Homo sapiens: one gene and its partners. The protein of the gene in region 1 purifies or fractionates together with the protein of each later gene. This does not show direct contact. Each region holds a gene or a part of one and is shown in the gene's direction. Other genes may lie near its edges.

What was found.
Region 2: the proteins of C1orf115 (region 1) and FAT3 purify together in Homo sapiens (affinity purification with mass spectrometry; one large-scale study listed by BioGRID and IntAct). This does not show direct contact.
Region 3: the proteins of C1orf115 (region 1) and SMYD2 purify together in Homo sapiens (affinity purification with mass spectrometry; one large-scale study listed by BioGRID and IntAct). This does not show direct contact.
Region 4: the proteins of C1orf115 (region 1) and ANKS3 purify together in Homo sapiens (affinity purification with mass spectrometry; one large-scale study listed by BioGRID and IntAct). This does not show direct contact.
Region 5: the proteins of C1orf115 (region 1) and KCMF1 purify together in Homo sapiens (affinity purification with mass spectrometry; one large-scale study listed by BioGRID and IntAct). This does not show direct contact.

Annotation. Positions count from the first base shown.
Region 1 is NC_000001.11:220,688,979-220,693,165, forward strand, and holds the start of C1orf115 (required for drug-induced death protein 1), read left to right. Parts: upstream 1-1,384; 5' UTR 1,385-1,424; coding exon 1,425-1,733; intron 1,734-4,187. UniProt on the Homo sapiens protein: Regulates drug efflux through modulation of ABCB1 localization and activity.
Region 2 is NC_000011.10:92,350,307-92,353,824, forward strand, and holds part of FAT3 (protocadherin Fat 3 isoform 1 precursor), read left to right. Parts: intron 1-1,789; 5' UTR 1,790-1,806; coding exon 1,807-3,518.
Region 3 is NC_000001.11:214,287,656-214,291,173, forward strand, and holds part of SMYD2 (N-lysine methyltransferase SMYD2), read left to right. Parts: intron 1-3,518. UniProt on the Homo sapiens protein: Protein-lysine N-methyltransferase that methylates both histones and non-histone proteins, including p53/TP53 and RB1. Specifically trimethylates histone H3 'Lys-4' (H3K4me3) in vivo. The activity requires interaction with HSP90alpha.
Region 4 is NC_000016.10:4,706,766-4,710,283, reverse strand, and holds part of ANKS3 (ankyrin repeat and SAM domain-containing protein 3), read left to right. Parts: intron 1-3,518. UniProt on the Homo sapiens protein: May be involved in vasopressin signaling in the kidney.
Region 5 is NC_000002.12:85,051,156-85,054,673, forward strand, and holds part of KCMF1 (E3 ubiquitin-protein ligase KCMF1), read left to right. Parts: intron 1-1,992; coding exon 1,993-2,254; 3' UTR 2,255-3,518. UniProt on the Homo sapiens protein: E3 ubiquitin-protein ligase which accepts ubiquitin from an E2 ubiquitin-conjugating enzyme and then transfers it to targeted substrates, promoting their degradation by the proteasome.

The DNA of each region.
Region 1 (4,187 bases):
TTTAGAAATGGGGCCTACGTTGCTCAGAACTCCTAGCCTCAAGGGATCCTCCCACCACAGCCTGTGGAGTTGCTGGGATTACAGGTGAAAGTCACCATGCTGGCTCACATTTTAAGTTGGAATCACAAAACTAATTTCTTTTGCATCCTAGTGAACTAAATTGTCGTAAACATTGTATGTGCTTATACCAACATATACACGTTATTCTTAAATTTAATCACAAACTTTAATGTTAAAATATCAGTGTATCTAACAATCTATGTTATTTTATACCTAAGTATTTTTTTGAGATGGGATCTCACTCTGTCGACCCCTTTGGAGCGCAGTGGCACAATCATAGCTCACTGCAATCTCCACCTTCCAGGATCAAGCGATCTCCCTACCTCACTGGGACTACAGGTAAACTTTTGTATTTGTTTTTCTATTTCTAGAGATGAGGTCTCCCTGTGTTGCCCAGGCTAGTCTCAAACTCCCAGGCCCAAGCGATCCTCCTGAATAGCTGGGATCACAGGTGTGCGCCCCTACGCCTGGCTAATTTTTTTTTTTTTTTCTAGAGATGGAGGTCTCACTATGTTGCCCAGGCTGTTCCCCAACTCCTGGGCTGAAGCTATCCTCCCGGCCTCTCAAAGTGCTGGGATTACAGGCGTGAGCCACTGCTTTCGGCCCTTAATTCTACATTAGCCAGAATTCAAAGGCATTTACCCACTTAAGAAAATAGGGCACTCTCAGCTTGTTGAGATTCACAGTACACTGATAATGCTTATCTCACAGAGAGATATTCCTGAAAATCATGATTTTAAAGACTGCGCCATATGCTGGCATGTCTGCACCAGAATTTCCTTTGCGCCTCCCTGTTGGTTTGCTCCACTTTTTCACTGAGTCAGACCGTTGAACACCGTGGACACACTGTCTTGCGTTTCCGAATATTTCCTAGAATACGGACGTTTCCTAAGACTCACGATAAAGATTTTCTGATCGTCTCTCCAAAACCTTGCCACCAATTTGCACTCCCACGAATCCTGTTACCGTGACTATCTCGCCATGCCCTCCCTAGCACTGAGCGTGATCTCTAGTATCATTTTCCATCGTTGCTAATTTGAACATGAGCAGATGGAGTCCTATTATTTGGGGTCATTAATTTCGTAGCAAGTGCAGTTGAAGGTGTTTTGCATGTTCATTGTGCAGTGCGCGCCGTAGTCTGCACAGTTTGGCCGGCAGGTGGGATGAAGGGCGGGGCTGGCGGAGCGCGCCCGCCGCCTGGTAGGCCAGTTCGGAGCGGAGCCAACGCTATCCCGGGCCCCACGGCCAGGGGGCGCTGCGGCCCCCCCAATCCCCCGCCCCGTCCGGGCTGGGGCGGAGGAGCGGGCGGGGACCAAAGGTTGGTGTCTTTGCGCTCGGACCTTCGCCAGAGGGGCCGGGACATCATGACGGTGGGAGCCAGGCTCCGAAGCAAGGCGGAGAGCAGCCTCCTGCGCCGCGGGCCCCGAGGGCGAGGGCGAACCGAGGGGGACGAGGAGGCGGCCGCCATCCTGGAGCACCTGGAGTACGCGGACGAGGCGGAGGCGGCGGCCGAGAGCGGGACGAGCGCGGCGGACGAGCGGGGCCCGGGGACCCGGGGCGCGCGGAGGGTGCACTTCGCCCTCCTGCCCGAGCGCTACGAGCCACTGGAGGAGCCGGCGCCGAGCGAGCAGCCCAGGAAGAGGTACCGGAGGAAGCTGAAGAAGTACGGCAAGGTAGGGGCCCTGCGCCACCACTGCCCGGGGGGCGCGGGTGTGGTGTCCCGCGGGGGAGCGGGAGCCGGGTCCTTACCATCGACTCACCCAGTTTCTCCGGGCTGCACCTGCGACCCCTCCGCCCCCGCTCCCATTCCCTCGCCGGAGGGAAGCCGCGAGTTGCGAGTCGTGATAGAAACTTAAATCGGGGGTTGCGCTGGGTGGTCCCTGCTGTGCCTGCTATTGCGCTCCTGGCTTCTTAAGAACATTCTCAAGGGGCTCCTACCGCGGTGGTTTTTATGTAAGATCAGGAATCAGTTTCCTGATTACAGATGGGAATACTGAAGCGTTAGCGCGGCAGGTGACTTGGAGAAGGTGGCCCAGTTGGAAAGAAAGAAATTGCAACCCAGTGTATTTGTTTTCCAGTAACATCCCCTCCAGGATATCCCACTAGTTGAGAAATGTTTGGGTTACTCTCCCAAATATTCCCAAGGTTATTTCCCGAGCCTGGGAGCGCAACAAATACATAAATAGGCGCTCGTTGAATTTTTCTCGTCTAGCCAACTATCAGTGTACTCTGGGGCCTTCAAAACATTCTGCCGTTTGTCTCGGGGAGATGGGGTTAGGAAGAATGAATATGGGAGAAAATGACAGTTTCCTTCGCGGAAATCAAAGCGCAGATGCAGTTCCCAGGTGTCTCTGCATGGAAACAGTCGAAGCTGCTGCCGGAAGCTCTGCTGGCCTGGACAAGGCCACCCAGAATAAAGTCACAGAAGTTACTGTGTCCTGGCCAAAGGCCACGGGCCCCATCTGATTTATTGTCTATTTATCTGTGTTGCCCAATGCCGTCTTACACCTGAAGCCATTCAGTCTCCATGCCTGGGAGCTTAGGTTTATCATCCTCTTTAAAGGTATGTCAGCAGCTTCTGGAGCAGAATACAGGCAGGGGTAAAACTATAAAGTTGGGTCTTTCAGGCTTAGAGCCCTGCTAGGACGATTCATCTCTGCTTTGGGTCCCAGTTGAGCACAAAGAAGCCATCATGTCCCTCTCCATTGGTGAACTGATACTGCAGAAACCTCAGCTCAAGGACTAGGACTTGAAGATATTTTGGGGGCACTCATTATGCGTCAGGCATTGTGCTGAGCAGTAGAGATGCGAAAATGAATACAGTGCAGCCCTGCCCTAGAGAAGGGCACAGCCTCCCAGGGAGACACTGACATAGCTGGCTCCCCCCGCCCCCGGGGGGGCTTCAGGGCACAGAGCTCAGGCAGTTCACTCCTCAGCGGTGAGCTTGTAAACTCAGGGAAGTTTTCAAATCACGGTGACATGAAAACTGGGCACAGAAGGATGAGTTAAGATTTCACCAGATAACAGTGAAGTGGTATGAAGTAGGCACACTTCATCCCCACTAGAACGGCTACTCCAAAAAATGTCCAAACAAACCGAATAACAAATGTTGGCGAGAATGTAGAGAAATTGGAACCATTGTACATTGCTGGTGGGAATGTAAAATGGGACAGCTGCTGTGGAAAACAATTTGGGAGTTCCTTAAAAAGTTCAGTGTAGACTTATTCTGTGATCTAGCAGTTCCACTCCTAGGGATGTAACCAAAGAATTGAAAACAGGTACTCAAATCAATGTTTATATACACATTTTAATGGAATTATTATTTACAATAGTCAAAAGGTGGAAACAACCCAAATGTCCCTAAATGGATGAATGCATAAACAAGTGTGTTATATACATACAATGGAATAGTATTCAGCCATAAAAGGAAGGAAATGTACTAATCCATGCTACAATATGATGAACCTCTAAAAATATTATGCTAAGTGAAGTAAACAAGACCCGCAAGATCACATATTGTGCGTATGATTCCATTTGTATGGAATGCTTAGGATAGGTCAACCCATGGAGATGGAACACAGATTGGTGGTTGCCAGGGACTGCGGGAAAGAGGAATGGAGCCCATCTGCTTAATGGGTAATGTGTTTTTTCCTGGGGATGATGAAAATGTTTTGGAACTAGATAGAAGTGGTGGTTGCACAACAATGTAAATGTACTAAATGCCACCGGGCTGTACGCACTTTAAAATGGTGAATTTTATGTTATGTGAATTTTGCCTTAACTAAAACAAACAAAAAAAACAAGATTTCAGTGGATAGAGAAGTGGTGTCATCTCAGGTAGAGGGGCCATCACAAGCCCAGCTGTGGGCATGAAAGCTCTAGAGTGTTGCACGCTAGTTCAATGGACCCAGGAGGCCAGGTGAGAGGATGTCGTCAGGTTAGGGTTGGATCTCTCCTTTCTGCCCTTCAAAAGTGACTTCAGCTTCTACTTTCTTGGAGCCACCTGAGAGGGTCACCAGGCTCAAACATGGAGATATAAAGCAGGTGACCCCTCTTTGTTCCCCGAGACCCCAGCTCCCCTCTGAGAGAGTAGTTGGGTAGAAAGCTCTACTCAGATCAAAGAATTC
Region 2 (3,518 bases), on another chromosome or scaffold:
TAAACCATACAATTTGTAATATTTTAATATGTTAAACTCCTGTAGGGATTTTTTTTTTTTTCAGTTTGCAGCCAATAACTAGAACTACATTAAAACCAGAGAGGAGATAACCAAAAAGATATGCTGGGGGCAGGGATGGGTTGTACTTTTTAAAATCAATGACATATGTTGACTATTTCATTAGAATTAAATTATGTCATATATGCTTCTAGGATCCTTAATTATTTCATTCTTGCTTGCAGGTAATTTTGAGAGAGTGATTGTGTGATGGGGAAAAGCATGGATTTTAGAGAAAGATTAAGGTCTGAGATCCTGCTTTACTACTTGCCGGCTGGGGAACATTGTTTGGGCAAATGTCTCAACTAAATAGATTAACTTCTCTGACCCTCAGTTTTCTAATATGTCATTGGGTAAAATAGTACCTATTACTTAGGATTATCATGAAGATTAAATACAACAAAGTGGAAAAATGACTGACACAGTGCCTACATCATTACATGCCTGCAAAGAAATTCATTTTCCATCTCCTCTCATCTTCACGTTCCCTGTAAAGGAAGAAAAGGAGAATGTCAAGGGCTTGCAGAGTATAAGACTGGATGGAAGAACTCATATTTGGGGGTTCTAAAAATCTGATCCTTTGGGTATGAATAGACTTAACTTTTTCTTGTTGAATACCTCCTTTCTCCCTTCTCCTTGATTGATTTTACTGGCTAAAATAGGAAAAAGTTTGTATCTTTTAACCCACATAGTCATGAAACTGTAGAAACTGTCCAAATTTAATAGTCATTGATGAAAGTAATTGGAAGTATCTCTTGTAATTTCTAAAGTTTTTCTTGCAAGTAATCACTCTTACCTCCCTTGTTCTGAATAGTTCTGGATATCACTCCAGTCATATAACTCCTTAGGGATTATTGTCTCTGCTTTGTAACTTGACACTTTGTTCATTCTCATGGCATTGCATTATTCATAAACCTTGATCAGTTTAAAAGTAAGCACAATAAAAGATGGTAATACCTTGAAGCATTTTAAAAAGATTATAATTATAAAAGTAATTATGTAACTATTGATGAACAATGTTCATTGAAGAAAAGTTAGAAAATGCAAATATGCCACCAAATCCCAAAACACAGTTAATCCTTTTTAAATATAAAAATTCATTTGCACATATAGGTGTTTATATAATAATAGAACTCATGCTATATATACTGTTTGATGACCTTTTTTCCTTAGCATTACATCTTACTGCATCTGAAAATGCACATCTTTTATGTCTCTATTTTTAATGACTGCATAATATTTTATTTTATGAATACACCATGAATTATTCAGTCCTCTATTGATAGGCATTTAGCATCTCTTCATTTTTTTTTTACTTTAAACTGTGCTATAACAGATAATTGTCTAAATGTTTCTATAGGATAATTACTGCAAAGGCAGTTCTAAGTCAAAGGTAAATGCACTTAAGGCTTCCAATATATCTCTAAATTGACCTTCAGAATGTAAGAAATCTTGTACCAATGAACAACGCTGTCAGTAGTATAAAAGTGTTATTTAAAACAAAGTGTCACTTGAAAACAATTCTTACAAGATTGGGCTAAATTCTAGTAATCTTAAGTTCCTTATTACCTAGTAGTGGCAAGGTTTCTAATTTTTTCTTATATTGCTGTTTTAGTAAAAAGATTTTGTGATAAAGTTTTAAAAAGCATGGCTTCCTAATAGTTATTTCCCACTCTCCCCCTTCTTCTAGGATGGTTAATTTATCTTTTCTCTCTCTCTTTCTTCCCTCCAGGATGGAAGTATGATGTGATGGATATAATTATGGGACACTGTGTGGGCACACGGCCTCCTGCTTGTTGCCTCATCCTCCTGCTTTTCAAGCTTTTGGCCACTGTCTCCCAGGGGCTGCCAGGGACTGGACCCCTGGGCTTCCACTTCACACATTCCATTTATAATGCTACCGTGTATGAGAACTCAGCAGCAAGGACCTACGTCAACAGCCAGAGTAGAATGGGCATCACCTTAATAGATCTATCCTGGGATATCAAATACAGAATAGTGTCCGGAGACGAGGAAGGCTTTTTCAAAGCAGAGGAAGTCATCATTGCAGATTTCTGTTTTCTCAGAATAAGAACTAAAGGTGGCAATTCTGCCATATTAAATAGGGAAATCCAGGATAATTATTTATTGATAGTAAAAGGTTCTGTCAGAGGAGAGGATTTGGAAGCATGGACCAAAGTGAATATACAGGTTTTAGATATGAATGATCTGAGACCTTTGTTTTCACCCACAACATACTCTGTTACCATAGCAGAAAGCACACCTCTAAGGACTAGTGTTGCCCAGGTGACTGCAACAGACGCAGATATTGGTTCCAATGGAGAATTCTACTACTACTTTAAAAATAAAGTTGATCTCTTTTCAGTTCACCCCACGAGTGGTGTCATCTCCTTAAGTGGTCGATTAAATTATGATGAAAAGAATAGGTATGATCTGGAAATTTTGGCTGTGGACCGGGGAATGAAACTGTATGGGAACAATGGAGTGAGCAGTACTGCAAAGCTTTATGTTCACATTGAGCGCATAAATGAACATGCCCCAACAATCCATGTAGTCACTCATGTTCCTTTCTCGTTGGAAAAAGAGCCAACATATGCAGTGGTGACAGTTGATGACTTAGATGATGGAGCGAATGGAGAGATCGAATCTGTTTCCATTGTGGCTGGGGATCCTTTAGATCAGTTCTTCCTGGCTAAGGAAGGAAAGTGGTTGAATGAGTACAAGATTAAGGAGAGGAAGCAGATTGACTGGGAGAGCTTTCCCTATGGCTACAATCTCACTCTTCAAGCAAAAGACAAGGGATCTCCTCAAAAATGTTCAGCATTAAAGGCAGTCTACATTGGCAACCCCACAAGAGACACTGTCCCCATTAGATTTGAAAAAGAAGTGTACGATGTGAGCATAAGTGAATTTTCCCCTCCTGGTGTCGTGGTTGCTATAGTAAAATTAAGTCCTGAACCGATAGATGTGGAATACAAATTATCTCCTGGTGAGGATGCAGTGTACTTTAAAATTAATCCTCGGTCGGGTCTGATTGTTACAGCACGGCCACTGAATACTGTTAAGAAGGAGGTTTATAAACTGGAGGTGACAAACAAGGAAGGAGATTTAAAAGCACAGGTCACCATCAGCATAGAAGATGCAAATGACCACACCCCAGAATTTCAGCAACCACTGTATGATGCTTATGTGAATGAAAGTGTCCCAGTGGGAACCAGCGTTCTAACAGTTTCAGCTTCTGATAAGGATAAAGGAGAAAATGGGTACATCACCTATAGTATCGCTAGCCTGAATTTGTTACCATTTGTCATTAATCAGTTTACAGGTGTTATTAGCACAACTGAAGAACTGGATTTTGAATCCTCCCCAGAAATTTACAGATTCATTGTTAGAGCCTCTGACTGGGGTTCACCATACCGCCATGAAAGTGAGGTCAATGTGACTATTCGAATAGGAAATGT
Region 3 (3,518 bases), 6.4 Mb from region 1:
TTCCCCAGAATTAATGATGGGGTCTGGGATTAGTTTTCAGTATTTTTCAAAACCTAATGGAAATAATATAATATACCTACACAGGTAAACCTTCTTCAAAAAAGAGCCTTTTCTCACTCCAAAGTCTTAGGCACTTTAATATTCTTTTAATAAGAAAAAACAAATATTTATAGAGAGAAATGGAAGAAAACAGAATTTTCCACATTGCAAGGATATCAGGGTTCCTTCTGCCTTTTACTTTCAGCACAATTGTTTCAACAGCAGCAAGGAGCCATCCTTTAAGACTTCAAATGTGCCAGTAACTCACGTTATTTTTCATATGCGGGGAACATAATTTCTGTTATAGCTTATAGGGGCTCAGTGACCAAGCTGCACGTTTGGAACCGATTTCAGATGAAAGAGACAGAATAACAGCAGGATATCCTGAAGTGAAATTCAAACCCTGGTGAGTTAAAACCACCATCTAACACCTTTCCCTCCCGAAGCAATTGCACAGAATCCTCTCAATCAAAAAAAATTCGAAGAACCTGTATAAAATGGCATTTCTTTAAATCATATTGCTCTTTGCAGCCCATAAAGCATTTCCAGATACATTCTTATTTTGATCCTTCCAAGGATGGCTGGTATACACAGGGCCTTATTCCATTTTACATAGAAAGAAACTGAGTGTTAGAGAAGTTAAGTGGTTTCTCTGAATTTCACACCTTTTTTGTCAAATATTTATTGAGTGCCTCTTAAAGGCCGGACTCCATGACCTTCAAGGATGGAGCCAAATCTCCCTGTTCCTCGTGTGATCTTCCTGTGCCCCCCTTTGGCCTGAACCTACTGTGTGGTTCACCCAGGGACTTCACCCTACATTACTACTGTGTGGTTCCCTGGAGACTGGGGGCTTAATCCGTCTCTGATATCTCCTTGATTGAATAGAATTTATAATTGGCCAACAATTTAACAAACGAATGCATTGTTTAAAGAATTATTTAAAGTTTTAAAAAATGTTTGATTCAGCCATCTTAGATCTATATTTTATGCTGATATGGACTTAAACATGTTGTTTTTATTATAATGCTTTGAAATTTGCATAAGAGCTACACATATTCTTTTATATGTATGAATTATTATGTAATAAAACATAAAAAGAACATGAGGCTTTGGTCCTTTTGTAGGCTTGGAATATTTTTAATATTACGCTAGGACTAAACCAGAGTTAGTCATCTCAGCCTTTATACCTACATATAAAGAGTTTGTTTCTGTGCCGTGTGATAGGGCAGCATCAGCCCATAGTCTTTTTTTTTTTTTTTTCCTTAAGCAAATCCATTCTTCAGGATCTCTCTCTGCAGAAGTTAAATCTCTTGAGTTGTGGAAATGGAATTTATGGTGCAGCTATAGGAGGCAGCCCCTGGTTGGTATTCCTGTAGAACAGGCAAGTTGCACACCACCTGTGAGAAGGTTCTTGTAAAAATATGTTAAATTTCTTTGAGAAGATCCAGGGCTCACTGCTATAGTTTGGCAGGAACCTGGTCTTTGGGAGAACTCAGAATTGGTGAGAATTCAGGACAGCAAAATTGTCTCTTTTAGGATTTGATATAGTGAGAGAATTGCAAAGGAAGTTTCTACTGTATTTGGGTGTTTTAGGCTTACTGCTTTGAACTTAGGTTAATATTCCCTCCTCTTTTCCCTGTCAGTATAAAAATATGAAATAATTACTGTTTTATGCCACTTTATTTCTGTCCTCGAAGGAAGCAATCAATAATTAAAAGCATGCTTTGTCTTCCTGGAGTCATGAATAATTAAATTGACTCCCCCCATCCACACACATCTTTTTTTGGACCTCAGATGTAGTTGAGGTAATCATACTTCTGAGTTCAAGGCATGCTTTTATCTGGTATATGCAAGGCAAATTTGATTTTTCAGAATGTTCCCTCTCATTTCCTGCTCTTCTCACAGACAGCTCCTCTATGGGTTTGGTTACGTATCTTTGAATACATGTGTATGTGTGTCCTGATGATCACTAGGGAACTAGACACACCTAGAACAAGGCACCCTGATTTTACTTGGCAGATTCAGACCTTGAGCTCTCTTCTGATCCTCCTGCTCACTCAGCGTTTTTCTGTGGCTGTGTCAGGGCAGGGGCCCCTGCACTGGCCCCTTCCTCCTGATGAGTGGCCTGTTCTGACACTTGAGGGAGGCAGGGCATTTTGAGGTCTCCTTTGCCTCTCAGGAACTTGCATTGTTAGCCCACCCACATCCCCAACCTTCACTTCTTTGGATTTCTAGGAAATCTGCAGTAGTTTAGGGGTGCAGTCCTTTGGCAGGGAATTAACTGAAGTACCTGCCTTTTCAGGGGTTGAACCCATGACCTTGGCCTCATTAGAGCTCTAACCAGTCACAAAGCACACACCTCACTTTGTGTAACTTCTGCTGACTTGTTCCTGCCACCCTCCGCGGCTTCCTATTCAATTGCAAAGGCGTTCACACCAACACAATAGAACAGAAGGAAATCAGATCTCTTCAAGACTTCTCTGAAGGACAGAAATATGCAATTTAGCAGGAAAATAATACAAAAAAGTCTTGAAGGTTCAGGAAACAACTTATCTTTCTAGTCCGTACATTCGCTGAGAATCCAGCTGTGTCTCTCAGATTCTTTTTCAATCAAAAATTTAAAAATAGCGTGGAACTCCTTGTGTTAATTTATTAACATAAAATCTAGCGACTCTTGTACATGAAGTGGAAGGTTTCGGATGACTAAGTGGAAATATTGTATGTATGTTATTAAAATGGATTGGGTTAGCTTTTATAGAAAAAGTGGATCTGAGAATTCATAAGTGCTTATCTTTGGCAAGTTTATAGTCCCTAGAGATAAAAATGAATGCGTGCTATAATAACAAAGACACTGTTGTGTCTTAGTGAGTGCACTGTGATGCTCAGGGTGTGTTGGTGCCCAGGGGACGCGGAGTCACCATGGAGGAGAGGAGAAACAAGGACAACTCCCTAGAGAAGTGAAATTCACACAGGGCTTGAAGACCTGAATGTATCTTGGGGGAGGGACGTGGTAAGATAATCTGGCTGTCCAAAAAGATACAGGTTTTTATTAGAGCCAAATAAAAAGCTCAAGGATTTTATGTCTTGGCACTTGGAAGGAGTTATGTTGAAATCTGTGTTCTGTTTAATCTGAGTACCAAGAAAGACTCTTCAGGGATGTAGGTACTGGCTCATATTTTTGATGAGATGGGGATTTTTCTTACTCTGGTGATGTTTGGATAGGAAACATTTGCTCATTTGCCACCTGAAAAATCTCTTCTCTGTCAATTCCGTGAATCCATGGTACAGTGACAGTTGCTGTTCACAGTGATAGCCTCATATGCTCTTAAAACCTCACCAATAAGACACATTTAATTATGAGCCAATAGTATACTCCCTAAGGGTAGGAATTCTACTTTTTAACTCAATCAAAAACATTTGTATTTGTGGACACTTAGTGGGTTCTATAGTTCTGGAAAACAACTCCAAAGAAAAGGAAC
Region 4 (3,518 bases), on another chromosome or scaffold:
ATTTCGAGGTGAGAACATTTAAAATCATGTCTTCTAGTAGCTATTTTGAGGTATAAGCTGTTGTTCCGTATAGTCACTCTACTGTGAACACCAGAACTTCTTTCTTCGATCTGTAATTTTACACCTATTGACCAATCTCTCCCACTACCTCCCCACCCCCAACCTCTGATAATCACTATTCTACTCTACATGTTTGACATGAGCTTTTAAAAATCCTGTAAATGGGTGACATCATGTAGTCATGTAGTCTTTTTTGTTGTTTGTTTGGTTTTTGAGACAGGTTCTCGCTTTGTCACCCAGGCTGGAGTGTGGTGGCATAATCTTGGCTCACTGCAGCCTCCAATTCCTGGGCTCAAGTGATCCTCCTATCTCAGCCTCCCGAGTAGCTGGCACTACAGGCACCTACCACCACACCTGGCTAATGTTTTATTTTTTTGTAGAGACGGGGTCTTGCTATACTGACCAGGTTGGTTTTGAACTCCTGGGCTCAAGTGATCCTCTCGCCTTGGCCTCCCAGAGTGTTGGGATTACAAGTGTGAGTCACCACAACAGCTGGCATTTGTCTTTCTTTTCTATGTCTGGCTTATTTTACTGAACATAGTCTCTTCCAGGCTTATTCATGTTGCCACAAATGATCAGATTTCATTCTTTATGTCTGAATAATATTCAATTGTGTATATAAACTCATTTTCTGTCTTCGTTCATCCACTGATGGACACAGGTTGATTCTCTATCTAGGCTACTGTGAATACTGCGGCAGTAAACATGAGGGTGTAGACATCTCTTTGGTATACTGATTTCCTTTCTTTTGGATAAATACCCAGTAGTGGAATTGCTGGATCTCATTTCTTATATTTTTTAATTTTTTTTTTTTTTTGAGATGGAGTTTCGCTCTTGTTTCCTAGGCTGGAGTGCAATGGCACGATCTTGGCTCACTGCAACCTCCACCTCCCGGGTTCAAGCGATTCTCCTGCCTCAGCCTCCCTAGTAGCTGGGATTACAGGCATGTGCCACCACGTCTGGCTAATTTTGCATTTTTGGGAGAGACAGGGTTTCTCCATGTTGGTCAGGGTGGTCTCGAACTCCCGACATAAGGTGGTCCACCCGACTCGGCCTCCCAAAGTGCTGGGATTACAGGCATGAACCGCTGCACCCGGCAAAAATTTCTTCTATTAAAAAAAATAGAGACAGTGTCTCAGTATGTTGCCCAGGCTGGTCTCAAACTCCTGGGCCCAAGCGATCCTCCCACCTCAGTCTCCCACAGTGCTGAGATTATAGGCATGAGCCACTGCGCCCGGCCTCACTTCTTATTTTGAATATTTGTGTTTGTTCTTTTTTTTTTTTTGAGACAGAGTCTCGCTCTGTTGCCCAGGCTGGAGTGCAGTGGCGCGATCTCGGCTCACTGCAACCCCCGCCTCCCAGGTTCAAGCGATTCTCCTGCCTCAGCCTTTTGAGTAGCTGGGACTACAGGGTGCCCACCACCACACCTGGCTAATTTTTTTTTTGTATTTTTAGTAGAGACAGGGTTTCACTGTGTTAGCCAGGATGGTCTCGATCTCCTCACCTCGTGATCTGCCCACCTCGGCCTCCCAAACTGCTAGAATTACAGGTGTGAGCCACCGTGCGCAGCCTCTTCCTTTTTTTCTTAAGTTAAATACTAGTACTTTGTCTGTTTAGTGGAAAAACAAGAAAAACCCATCGGATTTTGATTTATTAATGAGACCTACTGATTGTCTGTTTAATTTCTGCTTTTATTTTTATTTGGCTTACTTTGTTGTTCTAGTTTTTTGAGTTGGAAACTTCTTTCATTTTCATTGTTGCCCTTTTGTTGCTAAATGTTAGAGGCTGTGAATTTTTGCTGATTGCTGCTTTAAGTGTATTCTGGGGGTTCTGTATTTAATACTTTCCTTGTTATTTTTAGAAATTCTGTAATTTTTATTTATATTTTCTCCTTCACCCAGGAGTTGTCTAATAGAAGTATTATGATTGTTTTTGTTTGTTAATTTCTAGATGGAAGGGCCTTTTTGATCTTGCAATTAATTTCTCATGTTATTCTGATTAACTTTAATGTGTCTGATCAGAGAGTGTTTATAATTCTTACATTTACATAACTTCCTTGTCATCTTATTTATCATCTACTGATCTATCTATATATATATATATTTTTTTCAGATGTAGTCTCACTCTGTCACCCAGGCTGGAGTGCCCAAGTGCGATCTTGACTCACTGCAACCTCTGCCTCCCAGGTTCAAGCGACTCTCCTGCCTCAGCCTCCCGAGTAGTTGGGATTCCAGGCATCTGCCACCACGCCTGGCTCATTTTTTTTTGTATTTTTAGTAGGGACAGGGTTTCACCATGTTGGCCAGGTTGGTCTTGAAGTCCTGACCTCAAGTGATCCGCCCACCTCGGCCTCCCAAAGTGCTGGGATTACAGGCGTGAGCCACCGCGCCCGGCCCTGATCAATATTTTTTAGTGTTCCGTGTTTTGCTTGAGAAGTTGTATTCTCTATTATCTGTATACAGTTTAGCATATCTGTGAGTCTATCTTATTTAGGATTATGTACTCTTAGTTCATTTTCTACAAAATTACCTATTAGCGTGTTTCTGATTTATGAAGGAAGTTGGTGCATTTTTTGGTGACAGATTTTCATAACTTGTTATAGATTCACTGTGAATTATGGCTTTTAGTATTAGAAGTGTCCTTCTGGCTGGGCATGGCCCATACCTGTAATCCGAGCACTTTGGGAGGCCAAGGCGGGCAGATCCCCTGAGGTCAGGAGTTCGAGACCAGTCCAGCCTACATGGTGAAACCTTGTCTCTACTCAAAATACACAAATTAGCCAGGCATGGTGGCACATACTTACAATCCCAGCTACTCGGGAGGCTGAGGCAGGAGAATCACTTGAACCCGGGAGGCGGAGGTTACAATGAGCCGAGATTGTGCCACTGCACTCCAGCCTAGGTGACGGAGTGAAACTCTGTTTCAAAAAAAAAAAAAAAAAAGTGTCCTTCCGTGTCATATTTAATGTGTTTTGCCCTGAATTCCACGTTGATAGCAGGATTGCAGCCCTGGCTCTTTTGTGGTTTCCATCTGCCTGTTCTTTTTAAGCTGCTCTGAGGGTGTGTTGGGTGCTGAGATTCACGCAGCTGCCGTTCCCTTGCTTATTGCTGCCTCTTTGCATTTGTCTTACAGCTCCCTCCCCTTCAGCTTGGATGGAAGCACAGTCTCCCTGGAGTGCTATAGATCTTTGAGTGTGAGGAGGTGTGTGTCCATATGGCTAGCTCAGTCGCCAGAGCTTGAGCCTCGTCATGGGGAAGGACAGAGTGGCCCACGTTCAGGGCCTGAGCTCTCCCTCTTTGCTGGCCTGCCCTGAGTTGTCCTGTCAGTTTGCACCTGAGCGAGCAGCTCCTTTCTCAGTGTCAGGCTCAGCCCAGCCTCTTCCCTGGCATTGGGATTGTTTCATAATAAACACAGCTCAGGTGGTAATGCAAAGGACCTTTCCCTTCATTTCTGCCCCA
Region 5 (3,518 bases), on another chromosome or scaffold:
TCTCTGCAAGGTCAGTAACTGTGCCTGGTTATTACCAGATAATGCTGCTTTAATGTAAGAAAACCACAGAGCCACAGATGGAGCTACCTGCTGCCATGTAGCCTTCCCCATAGGGACTGACCAGCAGCAGGTCTATAACATACCAGATCTAAGTCCCTACCTCAAAAAGGAGATCTACTAGCGTGCATTTCTACTGAGAGTTCACAGAACTGTGGGTGGAATGTCTTGCCAGTGCCCTTTGGAAAAGACATCTTCCTACCCACCCTTGCCCTATCCTTTTTTTTTTTAAGACCCAAACTACTCAGCTTGATCTGTAATTTTTTTCTGTGCATTTATTCCACACCCAACTCTCAGAGCATGGTATGAGTGACCTCTGAGTGCTGTCTGTGGATTCTGGTTGTAGCTTCTTGAAATCCCCCTTCTATCATCTGATACTGTACATTCTATGGTACCATGCAGTTTGCAAACCACTTTCCACATCTTTTATTGTATTATATTCATATGATTTATTTAAGGCAATATTTCCCCAGAAATACTCTCTTAACTTCATATATTCAAAGGAATATATGTAATTACTTATGTTCTTCCACCCCCAATTAATAAGGTTGCAGAAAGCAAAGTAAGGAAAATTAAGAGATTATTTACTGTTGGGCTTCTTAGAACTTCAAATATATTAACATGCATTGTGAATTTTCAAGGCAAGGAGAACGGCTGCAGTGTATGCAGGGGAGATCCTGCTCTCTGGTCACACAGCTCTTATGTGATATATATAGGGCCCAAGCCTTATTTTTGGTCTTTTCTTTGACCAGGGGCAGTTCCTATTCATGTTGCCCTGCAACTGATGGTAAGGTCACAGTTTCTTTGAAGTCCAAGATAGTTGACCTTTTAGAAAGTGATTATTGGAGTGTGTAAGTCAGATCGGTCTTTTTTTGAGATAGAATTTCGCTCTTGTTGCCCAAGCTGGAGTGCAATGGCACGATCTCGGCTCACTGCAACCACCGCCTCCCAGGTTTAAGCGATTCTCCTACTTCAGCCTCCCGAGTAGCTGGGATTATAGGCACGCACCCCCACACCTGGCTAATTTTTTGTATTTTTAGTAGAAATGGGGTTTCACCACATTAGCCAGGCTGGTCTCAAACTCCTGACCTCAGGTGATCCGCCCGCCTTGGCCTCCCAAAGTGCTGGGATTACAGTCATGAGCCACCGTGCCTGGCCAGATCTAATCTTTTGACAGTGGGACCAGTTCATTTTGCTAACCCCAACTTGAAGATCCTCACAAGCCTTGCAGTTTCATTTATATCCTAAATGTTATATTTCATCAAGAAATTTGTCTAGTCTCTGTGCAGATGAGCCAGGTTTCCCAGCATAGCCCAGATCTCATAAGTACATGCATCAGGGGAGCAAGTCAGGCAGGTAGACCTTGTGTCTGCCCTGCTACACTGTAGGTCCTTGGTAGAAGAAATGTAGGAGTTTGTATGTATGTGTTTTCTTGCCCTTTCTAGCTTCTGCATATACCAAGAAGAATTAAATAGAGTAATAGAGAAAAGTCAGAGGAAATCTTAGGATATTTTTCAGTTGAATATTCTGTTCACTGCAGATTTTGTTTTTGTGTTTTATTTTCCTCTTTTTATTTACCCCCAGATGAAATTCTGGTTAGATACTTTCCCAAGCATCTAATCTGTAAGAAATCCTGTTTTCCTTAGAAAATTTTCACCTAGCTTTCTCTGGAGTGGAAAAAGTCTAAATGTCTTTTTTTTTCTCATTGAGTCTAATTAAAGCATAGATTTGCACCTCCAGGTAACAGTATTGCAACAAGTGTGGGGAATTCGTCTCAACACAATTAAGGATAAATTACAGCCAAGTATTCCAGCAATGTCTCATTCTGAATTTTGCCACCTGTAAAACTTCACAGTGGAGAGCACTGTAGAAATTGGCCATGCCATTGTTCATTGACTTTTTAACAATAAGGTCTTTTCTTTTTAACTTACACAGGTTGAATGATCCTAAAATGTCTGAAACGGAGCGCCAGTCCATGGAAAGCGAGCGTGCAGACCGCAGCCTGTTTGTCCAAGAGCTCCTTCTGTCCACTTTAGTGCGTGAAGAGAGCTCATCCTCAGATGAGGATGATCGGGGGGAGATGGCAGATTTTGGTGCTATGGGCTGTGTAGATATTATGCCTTTAGATGTTGCTTTAGAAAACCTAAATTTAAAAGAGAGTAATAAAGGAAATGAGCCTCCACCACCTCCTCTTTGATGACATCCCAATTCGCAGACAATGTCCTCTGTGCTGTATTTGCCAATGAAAGTGGACAACAACTATCTTGGGTTTGTTTGGTGATTGTAATTTCAGGTCTGTCACTCTTGTTACATTGTGTACATTCAAAAGGAAGAGAGAAAATATATATGATAATCATTTCCACTTAACTAATTTTTACTTCTAGCAGGTAAATGTAGGTAGCAGTGCAGGGGTGATCTCTGCTTCCTGTACCTTGACATGCAAAAGGCTCTCCTAATACTCCACATTCAAACTGAAGAGGAAAATTGAAATCTCTAATGAAGCTGCTGTGTGTATTTATGAATATTAATGAATAAAAACTGCTTGGATGGTTTACCTTAACTACTGCATGAGGTTTTTTGCAGCGTGCATGAGTTTTAGTGACCTTGTTATTTAAGAAGTTAAATACAAGGAGTAAAACTTAAAAAAAAAATACAAAGCCCAAAGCTTTCCCAAACATTATTCAATGGTTACACGACGAAGTAGCTTTTGAATAATGTCTGCCTGAATCACCTTTCTTTGTGTGCCTCCTACGCACAAAGCCAGCTCTGCAGTGGAATCTGGGGATTATAGCCGGGTGTGGCACTCCGCCCTGTGTGACTGTCCTGTCGCCCTGTTAGTCATCTTGCCTGTGTGGAGCTCAGCCTGTCTCTTTAACTCATCTGTAGAAGACACACCAGTAAAGCTACTGTTGGAATCTGCTGCAGGGGCCTTTGTGTGCCCTAAAAACAAATCCTGTTCATGTTTGTTTAAAGTTTTTACTTTTTGTGGTTGTTTAAAATTTTTTCAATTGTTAAATATGTTTTATTCAGGTGTAGATGAATTTCATTTATTGACTGTTCAACAGAGTTAACCTGAATTATGTTGTCTTTGTTTTTAAAAATCTCACATTCTCAATCATATTTTGCATTATTTATGTATTTGCTTTGTAGTTTGCTGAGACAGATCAGTATCAGGGGAGCTTTGAGGATTTGCCTTCCCAGATTTGTCAGTATATTACAACCAAATTCTTAATGCTAATTTTAGCACCTTTTATTTATTGGGTTTTTTCTGGCATAAAAAGTAAAGCCTTTTAATTGAATCATGCCACCTATATGCCTATATTATTAATCCTATGTGTAAAAAAAATGTACAGCTTTTTTTGGGTTTGTTTTGGGGTTTGGAAGGGCCGGGTTATTTTTTATTTCCTGTTTCAGTTTTTGTGCATAGACTTTCACAATAGCTCCAAGGCAGGGACAGCGGG